Linked DNA regions of Homo sapiens: region 2 is linked to region 1. The links come from fine-mapping of genetic effects on gene expression. Tissue or cell type: whole blood. Region 1 holds a variant in brackets; the other region holds the start of a gene. All regions are shown on one strand. Distances are from middle to middle.

Region 1 (8,111 bases):
TTCCCAAGTCTTCCTGGCAGTATCTATCCCTTACCTCTTGGAATTTCAATCGAGTAGAAACCCAGGAAATATTTCTCAATTCATGGGATATCTTCCCCTTCTGCAGTATCATTGAGACTGCCTCTGTTTCCCTGTAAGATTTCATTCTTAGGCAGGTTCACTCGACATGATGACCAAAGGCCAGATGTAGCTTGTGTTTTTTTTTTTTTTTTTTTTTGCTTATTCCAGAAGCAGGTGTCTTTTTCTTGATAGTGCTAGCCCAAATGATAAGACTATCTCTGATTAACTTCAGTTTTGTTAATCTGCCCATTCCTGAACTAATCACTATGGCTGAATGATAGGATACTTTGGCTAGCCTGATTTGTGGGCCTACTCCTGTGGTATAAAAATTAGAATTAGGTAATGAACGATTGCATCTGGAGAAAGAGGGACAGGTCTTTATTAGGGCACGCTCTGAAATCTCAGTGGCCTAACACAAAAGAATGCGTATGAGCTGTAGCACAAGTGTCCCTAATTGGCAAGCAAGTATCCTCCCAGTGAAGAGTCAGGAAACTCTAGCACAAGTGTCTCTAATTGGGAAGCAAGTATCCTCCAAGTGAAGATTCAGGAAACCAGGAGTCCTATCTTGCGGCTTTGCCATCTTTAACACATAGTTTCCAGTGCAAATTTGCTCATCTGCCTCAAGTTGATGGGGAGTGGGATATATTGGATTGCTCATGTGATGTTTCCATAGGCCAGAGCTGGAATAGGAGTGCATCACTTCTCACATTCCACTGGTTAGAACCTAATCAGCACACCTAACCCATATACCTAATTGCAAGAGAGGCATGGAAATATAGCTGTGTGGCCAGAAGAATTTAGCATTTGCAAGAATCTACTATTCTGATCACTAAACATGTATTTTACCTGTCTTTCCACACACAGAACATACCCTGTCCCAAAGGAGACAATCTAAAGTTTTAACCAGTTACTGGAACAGGCTCAAAGTCTAGGATTTTCAGAAAATGTGCAGTTCTCTTCATTAGGTACAGATGTGACCTAAGAACTAAAAAGACAAATTATCTTTATTGTCACCCCCATCCCTGCAAACCCAATATATAGTGGTAACTCAGGGACAGATAACTATAATACATTCTCTCATTCAGAAAAAAAATGTGATACTGAGCAATACTATTCATGTATAATAATGATGAAATACTGCATAAACATTTTGCGGCCCATCTCCTTGAAACTGAAGAAAGTTCTGATGAAACTCCAATTCTAGTCTTCAGGAGAAACTCCCTGTCCAGTCTTTAGTACAGCTCCTTATACGAGCTTCTGAAATGTTCTTTTTTTGTCCATCATTCTCCATGGCCACATCCTGTGTGGGTACTGGGGAGCTGTTAAGGTTTTATGCTCTATTTTTCTACTTATGCAAGCTTGGGGTTGGACAGTTACCCTCTGTTTTAACACCCGAACAATGATATTTGAGCCAGATTTAGTATGATTAATAAAATTCCTCTAAAAATGTAGTCTTCTGATTGATTTGCTTCTGGTAACTACACCCAAAGTTCTTTCTTACATAATTATCAAGCCTAATTTACTGCTTTGCTGCCTTGCTCCTATGCCAGTTCCTTTAGACCTTTATCGTAGCTATCTTGAAGCCATCTAAAATAATGACTTTGAATGGAAAGACCAAACCCTTTTCCTGATCTTTGTTGCAGGACTTAATCTCAAGGGTAACTATACTCAAGACCTCTTCTAGTTTTTTTTTTTTTTTTATTAGAAGTCTTATAAAAGTCAACTTTTCCAACCCTTCCTGAGAAATATTCCTGTACACTCTCACTTCTGTGAAGTATTTCCTGAGTTTCTCTCTTTAGTAAAACCTTACTAAAAGTAAAATGTAAAATTCAACACAGTATTACTTTTGCTCTTTTCAATCATTTCCTCTGGAGCTAATCTAAACAGATAGGTGATCTGATTTTGAATTATTTCAGGTGACAGTTTTACTAATTACTTTGCCACTGCAAACATGGGCCTCCTTTTTCTAGCCTCCAAATCACATTCTCTACCACCTGCTGCATCATAAATAAGCTGATGTAACATATTTTAGGTTATTGTTTTAGCAGTACTCCACTTCTTGTACCAATTTCTGGACTAGCTATGGTCATTCTAGCTCCTATACATATAAATTCTCAAATCTCAATTTTTTCTCTTACAGTAAGTGCAAAAAGGGGTGTTTCTAATTGGGGTGGCTGTCTTCCAAGTACTGTTTCAGCCACTCATTCTTCTCTTTTCTGGCTTTGGCATCTCCAATACATAGTTTTGAAGGTCACCATGCTCAAAGGCATCAAGTTGACGAAGAAAGAGTAAGGGAGAATAGGAGGACTTCATTAACCCTAAAAATGAGCACATCATTTCCATTCATATTTAATTGGCTAGAAGTTAATCACGGCCAGGCTCGGTGGCTCACGCCCGTAATCCCAGCACTTTGAAAGCCGAGGTGGGGGAATCACCTGAGGTCGGGAGTTCGAGACCAGCCTGACCAACATGGAGAAACCGTGTCTCTACTAAAAATACAAAATTAGCCGGGTGTGATGGCACATGCCTGTAATCCCAGCTACTTGGGAGGCTGAGGCAGGAGAATCGCTTGAACACGGGAGGCGGAGGTTGCGGTGAGCTGAGATTGTGCCATTGCATTCCAGCCTGAGCAACAAGAGCTAAACTCTGTCTCAAAAAAAGAAGTTCATCACATGACTATAACCAACTACAAGGAAAGCTGTGAAATTTAGTTTAGCTGTGTGCCCGGGAAGAAGAAATAAGTTTCATGGGCTAGTCAGTCCCTGCCAGAGGTTCTAACGGGGGGAAAAAAAGATAAAAATAAAAGAAAGTGACTTTACATGCCTTGTCCATTTTAATAGTTTTGAACCTTATCCTACTAGTGAAACAGGATCATCATTTCACTATTATATTAAAGAACAAAAAACTCATTTTCTTCCAAACAATGAGATTACTTTAAAGAGAGCATTTTTGGTAGCACAGCACGATAGACACAGAGACTAGACTGCAGAGGGCTGACAAGTCAATTTCAGAAAACAAAAAAGACACTGATTGTAGACACTTTTTTTTTGAGATGGAGTCTCGCTCTGTCGCCCAAGCTAGAGTGCAGTAGCAGGATCTCAGCTCACTGCAAACTCCGCCTCGCAGGTTCAAGCGATTCTCCTGCTTCAGCCTCCTGAGTATAGAATACTTTTTAAAGAAAGAAAGTTTGCTTGTGAAGGAAATAATTGAAAGCTACAGAAGAATTAGCTAAGGAACCAGAATTTGTAGAAGGTTGACAACAGAAAAGATAATAAATGCATGAGAAAGAGGGGTATTGGAACTAGAATATGTATGAAGAGTTTATCTCATATATGAACAGGGAGTCTCTCATTCGTTGATACTGGAGAAAAGGCAATCTCAGGAAATTTCTAGCACTTGGAAAATTGTGAAGTCTAAGTTAAAAGTCATATAATAAAATGGGCTGGGATTTAAAGATTGCGAAAAGTATTCAAGTGGAAAGGGAGAAAAAGATGCTGAAGAATATACAAAGTAGGAGGGAGGGATGCAGCTGAAATTATAAAATCTAAATCAGTAGTGGTGAGATACACAATGCAGTGCTCTGTTCTACACTGGAACTCAGCAACGACTGTAGGAGAGGAATAGGCAGATGGTTACCACTCCGTATATATATTTACTATAGCACTTATTACACTGTAAAGCCCCTGGAAACAAGAGACTTTGATTCCACAAATTATGCGCACAGTAGGCACATGATGAATTTTTGTTTGAATGAATTGATTTAGTCATTGCCAATTCTGCCTTGGTACTCTGTAGAGTACTGGCAACTGCCCACATTTCATATGGTATGCCAATGCTAAAAAGAAAAAAAATGCTAAAAAAAAAAAAAATCCAGGCATATTCAGCTAAACTAAGCAGTCTTAAAATGGCAACTATGTCAGCTGAGACATACTTTTAATCTTGTGCCAGTACATCTGTCTTTGATGTTTGCTTCATTTTCCGTATGCCACTATACTCCTACTAGACCAGAAAGGGATAATTCTGAGTTCAATGGGCTCCACTATCATTTCAAAAGTCCTGAAACTTCTTCAGACACCTAAAAATGAACCCACAACTCCCATAACAGCATTCCTTCCGAGAGAAGTATACAGACAACAATCACTATTTATGCTTGCTTCCAAGCTGAATCGAAGAGGGCCGGAAGAGCTAAATCAGGGTCATTCAGTGAATCGTCTACAAAGTCTGGCACAGACCACGCATCCTTCCCGTGTCTTCCTCCCCTTGGAAACTTGAGGTGTAAGTAATGATCTTAGACATCTCCTAATCGACTGCCTTCATATTACACACGTGTAAACTCAGGTAGAGGATGTCTATGAGCCGAGCTTAAACTCAGGTAAAGAAGGCTCTTTTCCCAACACGACGCCATCTCTCATGATCCAAAGCTCTATCTCTCGATTTGGCGGTGGAAAAAAATGACCAGGAATAAAACTACGTACAGCAGTCCAGAACGAGGCCCCACCTCCCGGATCTGGCGGACCGGCCTCCCGTCAGCAAAGTGTCTGGACCGCGCTTCCGCACCTCACACTGCCCG[G/C]GGCCGGCTCCTCTCCAGCCTCCCCGTACTCCCCACACGCCGCAGCACTGCGCGCCCGCGGGGCCCCAGACCCGGCCCTTGAAATCTCACTTTCGCCTTTCGGCCACCCGCGCGCCACGGCTCAGGCGACGGCTGATGGCGTCACTGCACTTCCGCCTGCGGCTGCGTTCTAATCACAAGCCAGGAAGGAAGAAGGGAGGGCTGCAGGGCTGTGTGTGCGGGAAATAGCGAGGAAAGAGAAGAAATCCGGGAGCTCGCGGGCGCTCTGGTTGCAATCGCGCCCCCCTCATCTGTCCCCGCCGTTCCCCTTCGGAAGCTGCCCCAGGCACACTTCCCCGCTTCTTTCCAGTCTCCTCTCCTCTGGTTCTCCCGACACCCGGTCTCCCTGTTACGCCTCACCCTCCTTCCCTTGCTCCCTCCCTCTCCCTCCCTCCCTCCCTCCCATCGTCAGGCTCCCCGCCCTTAGTATCGCGAGACGAGGTGAGAGCTGGCGGAGCGGCGGCGGCGGCGGCGGCAGTAGAGGTGACCGAGGCGGTGGCGGCGGAGGCGGCACCGATTGCTGTGTCGGCCCCAGTGCGGCCGAAGTCGCGGTAGAGCGTAGCCCCACGCCCCTCCCCCGTCCGCGCCCTCCCTCTTTCCCTGGGGATGGAGAAGGCGACGGTTCCGGTGGCGGCGGCGACGGCTGCAGAAGGAGAAGGGAGCCCCCCGGCGGTGGCGGCTGTGGCGGGCCCCCCCGCGGCGGCGGAGGTCGGCGGCGGCGTTGGCGGCAGCAGCAGAGCTCGCTCGGCCTCGTCTCCTCGTGGGATGGTGCGAGTCTGCGACCTGCTCCTGAAGAAGAAGCCGCCGCAGCAGCAGCACCACAAGGCCAAGCGTAACCGGACTTGCCGACCCCCCAGCAGCAGCGAAAGCAGCAGCGACAGCGACAACAGCGGCGGCGGTGGAGGCGGCGGTGGAGGCGGAGGTGGCGGCGGCGGCACCAGCAGTAACAACAGCGAGGAAGAAGAGGACGACGACGACGAGGAAGAGGAGGTTTCTGAGGCAAGGGCCTGGTTTCAAAGGAAGGAGGGAGGAAGGGACTGTAAGGGATAGGGGCCGAAGGTGGGAGGGGATTTGGAGTGGGACAGATTCCAGTGGGTTGATCTCTTAGGGGCCAGGCTTTCGACTGCCCCCTTTCTTCCCTCGGCCTAAATCGTGAGGTGTGGGAATGTGGGGGAGGGTAGCTGACACGTGGGGGTGGGAGGACCACGGAGTTCACAGAGTTGGTGAACAGCCTGTTATCATGGGATGGCTCACTTGGTTAAGGATGGAGGGAATTGGTTAGATTCCCTGTTTGCACGCCGGGGGGTGGGGGGGTGGTCTGCCTGGGGCCAGTAGGGCCACCTTAGTCTGAGGCGGGATCGGGATCAAAGCGGGAGGAGTAAAATAATGGGTAAATGAGTCTCTTGGGGACCAACTAGGAGGTTGATCAACTTCTCCCAGTTGTGAGGTGGAGGGGAGCAGTTTGAGGGGGGACGTAAGGTTGTAATGGACTCAGAGCTAAGTGTTTGTGTATGTGAGGGACACGTGAGAAGCTGTACTTTTCCATACTGTTCTGCAGGGTTTTTCGTAACTATCCTGGCTGCTGAAGTAACTTCATTTCCTCGATCTCCCAGGGATTTTCGATGAACTGATGCTGTATTTGTATAAATTTATCAGTAACTTTAAATAATTACAAATGACCATATACATTTGTAAGTGGATGAAAAATATATTTGATCCTTACACGTACATACATACATGCCTTCGAATGTTTCCTTAGTGAGTTAGAATTAAGCTAGGACCTGTTGTCCCGTAATATGGGACAGCCAAAGGGTAGGCTTTGGAGCCAGGCCTGGTTGTGGTGAGTTGGAATAGGAAGGCCTCTCGGTTTGTCCTAGTGATCTGGTTTCATAATAACTTTATAATTTTTCCTGGGTCCACAGACAGGCGGCGTTGCAGGACCTTATTCCTCACAGAAGCCCTTACAACCCAAAGGCTCAGTAAAACATACCATACTGACAACCAACTGAGAGTTAGCTTTACTAGTTATTAGCTGTTTTACCACTCTCTTGTCTCCTTCCTGAAATAGAATCTAGAAAAATCTTTATTTGGAGAGGGAAATCTTTATCAGCAGAGGGAAAACAGCTTTAAAGGCTGATTTTAAACTTAGTTCTAAGAGGAGACCAAGTGATTCATCTAAAAGTACCACTTACTATTTATTCTCTTCCACAAACATGGAACTTATTTTGATGCAAGTCTGGTTTTCCGAAAATTGGAATTATTGAATCCTGGTCTCTGTTGAAATAGAGAAGTACCTTTTAAAGGATTTGACACATGTCTATTTGTAGAAGACCAGATTCTCTTTTATCTCAGACTGGATGAAGTTGTATAGGTAGAGATATTAAGTGCTGAAGTATGTATGACAAAAATATGCCAGTCCTTGTTTTTATTCCCTTTTAGCCTGTTGGATTCTGAGAATAGGTTTGTATTGATAGACTTATATTGGCCTACTTGGATGTTTAGGATAGTGTGTTGCTCTGGCGGCATTTGAAACAAGGAAGAGAAAGATGTAATGGGGTCCTTATCCCTAATAAAATTTGTTATGGTACTTAGAATCATTCAATTGTATGATTCTTCTCAAAGGTGAGAAACATTTTACAGGTAATTCAGCCCTTTATTTTAAAAAGGAGGAAAACAAGGTTTAGAGGAAAGTGGTTGTGGTGGGTAGTAGCAAAAGTACAAATCAAAGTTTTCTAATGTCTCAGACCTGTACACTTTTTAATAATAATTTATTTCCTTTTATCACCCTCCTGATATCATTCAGAAAAATAGTTACTGAATAGCAAGGTAACACAATCATGCAGCTATAGGCAAAATACCATTACTTAAAATTTTAAATTCTCGTGAAACTATTAAGCTCTGGTTTAGAGCAAGGTTATGATAGTTGAATGCAGTACTTACTGGGATATTCTGCTGCAAACTTAACATACCTAGGTAGTTTTGTCCATTGGAATGCGGCCTAATAAGCAGAACTTTTAGTAATTCCTTAAATCATGAAGAATGGCTGTAAGTTTGTAGGTATGTTTATTTTGTGGGTCAGGTTTGTTTTCCTTTTGTAATATAGGAATGGTTATGTTGACTTTCACCAACTATGGTAGTATTTCTATGTTTTTAACATACCTTATCCTGTCTTTTACATGGTGTTAAACAATGGGTTTGTCATTTATGAAGATGAGTCAGGAGAAATACGTGTAAGAAAGTGTGCCCATTGGCCGGGCGTGGTAGCTCACGCCTGTAATCCCAGCACTTTGGGAGACCGAGGCGGGCGGATCACCTGAGGTCAGGAGTTTGAGACCAGCCTGGCCAACATGGTGAAACCCCATCTCTACTAAAAATACAAAAAAATTAGCCGAGTGTGGTGGCAGATGCCTGTAATCTCAGCTACTTGGGAGGCTGAGGCAGG
Region 2 (8,111 bases), 140 kb before region 1:
TCAAGATGTAGAAAACCAACCTAAATGTCTATCAATCAACAAATTAATGGATAAAGAAAATGTGGTACACACATGCACTGGAATATTATTCAGCCTTGAAAAGAAGGAAATTCTGCAATAGGCAACAACATGGTTGGACTTTGAATGCACTATGCTAAGGGAAATAAGTCAGTCATAAAAAGATAAACAGTACATAATACCACTTATATAAGGTAGCTAAAGTAGTCAAACTCATAGAATCAAAGAGTATAATGCTGGTTGCCAGTGGCTGGGGGAGGACGAAACGAGGGGTTACTAATCAATGGGCACAAAGTTTTAATACAGCAAGATGAGTAAGCTATACAACAGTGTACCCGTAGTTAACAATAATGGATTGTACACTTAAAAATATAACAGGGTAGATCTCATGTTAAGGGTTCTTACTATAATAAAATAAGATAAATAAATAAATAAATACATGCTATCATATCCCTATTAGCCTCTACAAAAAGAAACCAAACCTCAAATTTTAAAAAGAGGTGTTTATAAATGACAAATTGCCATTTAAATACACCATGACTGTTGTGTTTGGTCTCAATAAAGAAATGATTTTAAAACTGTGGACATAGCTAAAGCATCTCTATCACAAAAGAAACAATGGCTTATCAGTCTATGAGCAACTTTTTAGTGTTTCTTACAAATCAGGACACTTAATAATAATTGAGAAAACTTAAAAAAAATTCCTTTGAAATGCTTGGGATTACTTCAAACAGAAGAAAGAATCTCCACAATTAGAATGTACTTACAAGTGATTTGTCACAATTTTCAGCTGACTCATCAGCAACACATGTTTTTGCAAATTCAGTTACTTCATTCACTAATTTTACATGATCTTCAAATGGACACTGCTGAAGATACTGAGCAAAGGCAATCAACACCCTGAAACAAAGGATGTAGAAAAATGTAGTATAATAAAACTTTAATATGTAACAGGTTGCTACGCTAGAGAACAAATCATGTATGGGTATAGGTTCTATCTTTTATACATCTTCTTCACCATTATCCAGAAAGCCTATTCATATCAGGTATGATCTGAGGCCTAGATAGGCATATGTGGCTTCCTACGCAAAGAGAATGGTAGTTCCCTAATGTTTATATGTATGCGTGTGTCAGTAGATCTATGCACACACATAGATTAAGCAAGCAAATTGTATGCCAAATAGATCTAATTGTCAAGACTAGGCATTTTTAAAGTCCTTAGAATTACTTAAAACTAAAACAAACCCCACAGATTTCCTTTTTCTTTTTTGAGACAGAGTCTCACTCTGTCACCCAGGCTGGAGTGCAGTGGCACAATCATGGCTCACTGTAGCCTTGACCTCTCAGGTCCAAACGATCCTCCTACGTCAGCCTCCTAAGTAGCTAGGACTACAGGCATGTGCCACCATGCCTAATTTTTTTGTTTGTTTGTTTTGTTTTTTTTAAAGAGACTTGCCCAGGCTGGTCTTGAACTCCTGGGCTCAAGCAATCCTCCTGCATCAGCCTTCCAAAGTGCTGGGATTACAGGTGTGAACCACCGCACCTGATCCCCACACACGTCTTTAATTAGCCTGTAGGATTAGGTAGACTTTTAAAAAAACAATTTTCTCATTTTTTACTAGATTAAAAAACATTTAAATAGGCCGGGCGCGGTGGCTCACTCCTGTAATCCCAGCACTTTGGGAGGCCGAGGTGGGCAGATCACGATGTCAGGAGATTGAGACCATCCTGGCACACGGTGAAACCCCATCTCTACTAAAAATACAAAAGATTAGCCGGGCGTGATGGCGGGCGCCTGTAGTCCCAGCTACTCGGGAGGCTGAGGCAGGAGAATGGCGTGAACCCGGGAGGCGGAGTTTGCAGTGAGCCGAGATTGCGCCACTGCACTCCAGCCTGGGCGACAGAGCGAGACCCTGTCTTAAAAAAAAAAAAAAATTAAATATTCCCAACTAAGCACAGGAATGCTTGCTATGTAAAGAAGATTTAGTGGGTAAGCCACCAAAGGAAACCTATATTAAAGTCCTTTCCACCAAGCAAGTTCCAGAGCTGTACTGTCCAATACAGTAGCCATTAGCCACATGTGACTATATACATTCAAATTAACTACAATTAAATACAATTTAAGTTTTTGTTTCTCAGTTGCACTTGTCATATTTGAAGTACTCAATAGCCATGTGACCAGTGACTACCTTATTGGATAGCCCAGATACAGAATATCTTCCTCAACGCAGAAAACTCTACGAGGCAGCACTGTTTTAGAATCTGAACCCTGATGACAAGGAAATATAAGCACTTTAGAATAATAAACAACACTATTAGAAACATTAAATTTGATTCATCAATATTTTAACTTACAAGGCTTTGAAATTTTCTTCTCCCAAATCTTTAAACCGATGAGCAACCTCACTCTTGTCTGGGCAAGGGAAGAAAAAAAAGGATTGTTAAATACTGAAGAAAACAAGAAGTAATAATGTTACTTTTTATATTTCTTTCCATTTGACTTAGATTATGCATTTGTTTCAAAATATTGGGCTCTGATTCCTACAGAAAAACTCAGGATGATGTTCAATTATTTCTTCTGCCTTTAAACAGAAGAATAATTCAATTACCAAGAATACTATTTTAAAAATTATTAAATATTTATAGCCTTATATTCAAACTTAGATAATATCTAATACTCTTTTAGTGTCTATCAACAGCAACCAAGAAGACAGACTAAAATGAAAATAAATATAAATACAAGTTCTATTTATGAGATCAACAGCACAGGTTTTGTGGTTTTTAAATAAAGCATAGTGCAATGGATAGGTCTTTGGGATAGTTATGAATTCAATCTTCAACCCTATTCTGTGAAGTTTCAGTCACTCTAAGTTACTTTGCACTTTCCTTAGTGCGCAAAAGAAAATTACAGTCACTAAACAATTCTGACCTTTTTTTTTTTTTACCTAGGATGTTTGAATTTTATTAATAAGATAACCTTGTAAGACTTCACAAATACAAAATACTATGCCATTTTAGAAATAAATGCCAAAATAATTCTTTAAAGATGCAGAGTTTACTAAAACTTTATTTTACTGGGAAAATAGAATAAAAGTTGAACAATAGAAAAATGGATTTCTTACGTGCATCTCGACGAAACACACCCCTGGAATAAGCCGAGCTAAAGAGAAAAAGAAGGGAAATAAAGGTTACCCACTTCATTGTGCCAAAGGCGTGTGGGGTTGACAGAAGAGAAAAGCTAGGACAAACGGAGGGAAATTAGCACTAATATACTTCTTTAACCAATAATTGTAGATTATTAACTAGACTCATCTTTGTATTTCATTGGCTGCCAACCGATTACAAAATTCATAATATTCTTGCCAAAAAATTGTTTGACTAAATCCCTTGTGTATATTTACCATCTGGAACTGTTTTCTCCACAAGACCTTGTCAATGTATTAAAGTTGTGTAAAACATCTTATCAAATTTTACATAAGAGTTTAAACGATTTGTACCTTTTATTCATTACCATGGTATTTAACTGTAATTTCCCACTTGAACATTTTAGTTCTTGGTGTTTGCAATTTAGTTCTCAGTGTTTAGTAATTACTAACCAAACTAAATACTTTGCTTAGAAATAAGACATACTGAAAGAGTTAAGTCCCAAATTGCATCTATTGCTAATTCCAAGTGTGCTTTTACCTATAGATAATGAAAAATTTACACACAAGTACTCACGCATGCACACACACATATACATACATACATATTTTAGGGCTTCTGTGTCTTTTTTACTATTCCAAAGCCATTCTGTCTGAAAAAGCTGATGTTGCCTCAGATGCAAACTAAGAAAAAGACATAGCAACAATAACAAGTAAGATAGGACTTAGAAATTCCATGTTCCCATTCCTGCTGTGGCCCACATGTGATTCAAGCCCTGAGATAGGCTATTTAGATTCAGTGTGAGTATATCTCATGGGATCTTCAGTTAAGCAGAGATGGAGAGGAAAATGGACCCAAATGAGATGATGATTATCTTTGCCATAATATACAATAGGACAGGCTGACCCCAAATTCTCTGTAGGTTATGAGAACCCTTGACCTTCACCAGGCATAGGATTCTTTCCATCCCTGTTTCATATTTTTTTCCTTTCTCTCTTTCAATAAGTAGAAAAATCACATGTTCTTTTATGTTGCTTTAAATTTCAAAATAAATTTAACATTATGTCTAAAAACAAAGCGAAGGAAGAATAATTTTTTAAATATTTCATAAATCTTCCTTCCCTACCCAAGGTTCTTATCTCTACCTCAGAAAAGCTATCCTACCTCTGCCCTTTTGCTCAGAATATGAAGAACTACTGAGCTCAACCAGTAGGAAGAACAACTTTCTCTGATACTACAGAACAATAATTAGTACTAAGCCAGTTATTTTACTTAATTAAATAACTCAGTCAGTCAAAACCAGTAGTCAAATTTCCTCATGGCACATAGAGGCACAGAGACTAACAAAGTATTATTTTTTCTACTCAGTCTTATAATGAAAGAAAATTTTTTCTATTCAGTCTTACAATGAAAGAAATTATTTTCTATAATCTTATGTTATTTCTTCTTCAGAAATGGGTACTAATTAACTAATAAAGCACAGAAGAGGAAAAAATCAAAGCTAGATGGATGATAGATACATAGATAGATAGGAAGATTTTTTTTAATGACTCAAGGGAGTCCTGAAAGGAAATACCAGACTTGTCTTTCTGACTACAGATGAACAGACATAAAACAAGTGTGCCTATTTTCCATTGAAGAAAAACAAGCATTTTTTCTAAAGCCAGAAAAACCTACATCTGAAAAGAAAAAAGAAACTATTCTAAGTTAAGAAAATAATTCTTTCTTGGATAAATTATGTCAACTTTTAACTTCCTAGAAATTGTAGGCATTATTTATTAGAAGTCAGTAACCAACTCTAGCTTTTTCCTTGTAGAAGTCCCTGGGAAAGGCCTACCCAAACATAAAATCCTTACTGTTGAATACAATTGTTACTAATTGACAAATTCAGGCCTTTGTCACTCTCACATATACTTTGTGCATACTTTTTCATTTAACAAATGAAAAGAATAATATTAGTCCATTTAGTTTTCACCACAACATTATAATGTAATATATTGTTAAATACAAAGAAACCTAAAAAAATCTCAAATTCATCATGACTGAATAGAAACTTTGAATTGATTTTCCTATATCTAATGAAGAGCCCTAGCTTTAAAACAAAATTGATGAAACCTAAAAGAATCTTTTCTTTTTTTTTTTTTTTTTTTGAGATGGAGTCTCGCTCTTTCGCCCAGACTGGAGTGCAGTGGCACTATCTCGGCTCACTTGCAAGCTCCGCCTCCCGAGTTCACGCCATTCTTCTGCCTCAGCCTCCCGAGTAGCTGGGACTACAGGCGCCCGCCATCACGCCCGGCTAATTTTTTGTATCTTTAGTAGAGACGGGGTTTCACCGTGTGCCAGGGTGGTCTCGATCTCCTGACCTCGTCATCCGCCCACCTCGGCCTCCCAAAGTGCTGGGATTACAGTCATGAGCCACCGCGCCCGGCCAAGAATCTTTTCTTACAGTACTAATGAGGCATTTTGCATATGTGCATCCTACTAAAAGATTAATAGTTTAGAAATTAAAATATTTAATTCTCAATGATATCTGCATACTTAAAATTAATGTTTCTTAAGAAATACTTGAACAATTGCATCTTCTGGATTTGCAAAGTAAAAATTTCTGCATTTTTCTCTGAAAACCTCTGGCATTAATTCTATATGAACATTCTATACTGAGAGAAATAAACCTACATAATTGTTAGTCATTTCTAAATTTCCTGTTCTTCAAACTTTGAAACTCTGTTTAGTCAGTCATCAACGGGCTCTGGCATGAGGGTAAATGCAAATATTTAGAGTAAGAGTTATAAATATGGTTTAGAGATTCTCTTTACTCGGTAAACAGAAAAATAGCCCCAATGATTTTTAAATGTTTTCTCATCTTTGTGGGAGAAGTTTAAAAATAGAGAGTAGTTAAGAAAAGTATTTTCTTTAGAAAGAATAAGTGTACTGATCATTTAGAAAAGAAAAAAAAAATACCTCAATTGAAATGTACATATACCTGGGATTTAAACCTGAGCCTTTAACCCTTTTGTTCTTTGTTTTGCATTCACTTTGACGTGATACAAAAGGCACAGTTTTTAAGTAGATAAAATGTCTCTGAACCGGTCTCCCATTTTCCAGCCACTCTAACAGTAACTTTAAATCCGCACCCTTCTGCTACCCTCAGGACTCCCGAAGCTTCTCACTGAGTCATTCACACCAGGTTTGCCCTCCATCTAGCAATCCATTTAGTCCAGCTTTTATGCCATCTCCCACTCTGATAGGTTATATTTCTGACTCTTCTTCTCTTAAAGATAAAGGGAAACATATTCATGGAAATGTAATAATATCTAATAATATCCTCAATATTTTATAAGAGACTTTCTATAAACAACCACTTTACCCAGAGTCATTCCAAAATACAAGAAATTTGGATTTGTTTGGAGAGAAAATTGGGGACAGGAAAATCTTACCATTTTTCTACTATAAAATAAACATATGCAGATCCTTCCTATCATGAAGAGCTTGTATTACTCTCTACAAAATATGCAAGAGTGGAAAAGTGAAAGACTGTTAAGCATCAAACTAACCAATTGAAACATAATCAGTAATTTAACTTCTTATTCACTTATGGAGATACATTTCCCTCAAAAAAAGTTAGAATGAAAGTGTATAAACTTATATAAGTATTTCTAATGCAAATAAAAATGTATAAACATATAGGTATTCTAATGCAAATAAAAAATTGGAATATAATCCAAACAATTGCTCCCTTATTTCCCTCCATAAGCCATCCCCCCAGATATTCACTTGAATTAGTGAGAAATATGGAATTGGCTGAAGATTTCATAGGGAATGAGGAGAAAAAAGGTTATATCATAAAAACCACCCTAGGTCACCATCTTTGGCTTGTCCCACCTTTTAAGTCCCTCTGCCCCCAGATCTTCCATGATGAAAGAGTCCCTCTCCTTGACTTTCTTCATGTTACACTGGGCCTCTGGAATATATATACATTCGAATTTCCTAACCTTTTACTTTAAATTTCTCAGTTCTTCTCCGTGTGGTTTAATTCAGCTCAGTGTCAGTTTCTAGCTGCAGAACTGGACATGCAGATCTGCATATATCTCTATGCCATATGGGTCAAGTTGGACTAAATTATCTTTAACGATCCTTCTACCTTGAACATTCTGCAATTCCATGTTTTCAATGTGACAGCCTTATCAAATGAGAAAAGGACCTGAGTGGTAGGAAAGAATATATCAAGTTAGGCAATTAGGATTCAAGTTTGAGAGCTTGTTCATTCCTAAGCCTCACAATTGCTCCTCAAGTATTACGCTCTAGCTAGTTCAGCTTAATATTTTTAAAGAATAAAAAGTTCATTTAAACTTATTTAAACTATATTAATGAGACTTTCTCATATTTTTTTATCAAGTTTTTCAAGTGCAAGAAAAATATAGTTAATGTCTGCAATCCATGTTTATCCATTCTTAATAAATTAACAACTAATAGAATCTATAAACATATAAATTGAAATTAATACTAATCCTGTCTCATAAGGATAGCCACAGATGGAAATTAAACAGAAATGAATGCACTTTGAATCTATTCATATTCTATATTTTAAACATGAAATTCAAGAAACTTGTTACTTAAGTTTAAAGTTATAAAATTGAACTTTATCAATCTTCTATAAAACAACTAAGATTGTATAGCTAAAATAGTCTCATGTTGAAATTTTAGTGGATAGAGTTTAGAATGTTTTTATTAAAAGGTATTTTTTCTTCTTGATGTCTTCTATAGCTTTAAGCTTTGCGAGATGTTTTGTAATCTTTTAGTGCCAGTTCTTAGCTAAAACTTTCTCAACCCGTAACCCAGCTGAAGCTTGGAATTTAAGCCTTGAAATTCTCAGGAGTTTTCCAAGAAGGTATGTGTGCGCTGACATCAATAAATGAATTATTTGATCCAAAAAAGTGTAAGTTTTAAGA

What was found. PIP is the estimated chance that this variant, and not a neighbour inherited with it, causes the effect.
Region 2: it holds the start of ALB, and the variant in region 1 is fine-mapped to the expression of ALB in whole blood (TOPMed, PIP 0.96).

What each region holds. Positions count from the first base shown.
Region 1 is chr4:73,255,833-73,263,943 of GRCh38, reverse strand. ANKRD17 (ankyrin repeat domain 17) reads left to right here and starts at 5,146. Exons shown (of 34, transcript NM_032217.5): 1 at 5,146-5,668. The coding sequence starts at 5,276. ANKRD17-DT (ANKRD17 divergent transcript) reads right to left here and starts at 4,778. Exons shown (of 5, transcript NR_187399.1): 1 at 4,536-4,778. RefSeq lists enhancers at 4,625-4,894, 4,497-5,093, 7,494-7,994 and a silencer at 5,055-5,454. The variant G/C (reference allele first, on the strand shown) is at 4,631.
Region 2 is chr4:73,399,436-73,407,546 of GRCh38, reverse strand. It overlaps ALB (albumin), which reads right to left and starts at 3,260. Exons shown (of 15, transcript NM_000477.7): 1 at 3,141-3,260; 2 at 2,374-2,431; 3 at 786-918. The coding sequence starts at 3,219. RefSeq lists promoters at 3,220-3,625, 3,205-4,366 and enhancers at 3,593-3,632, 4,905-5,125.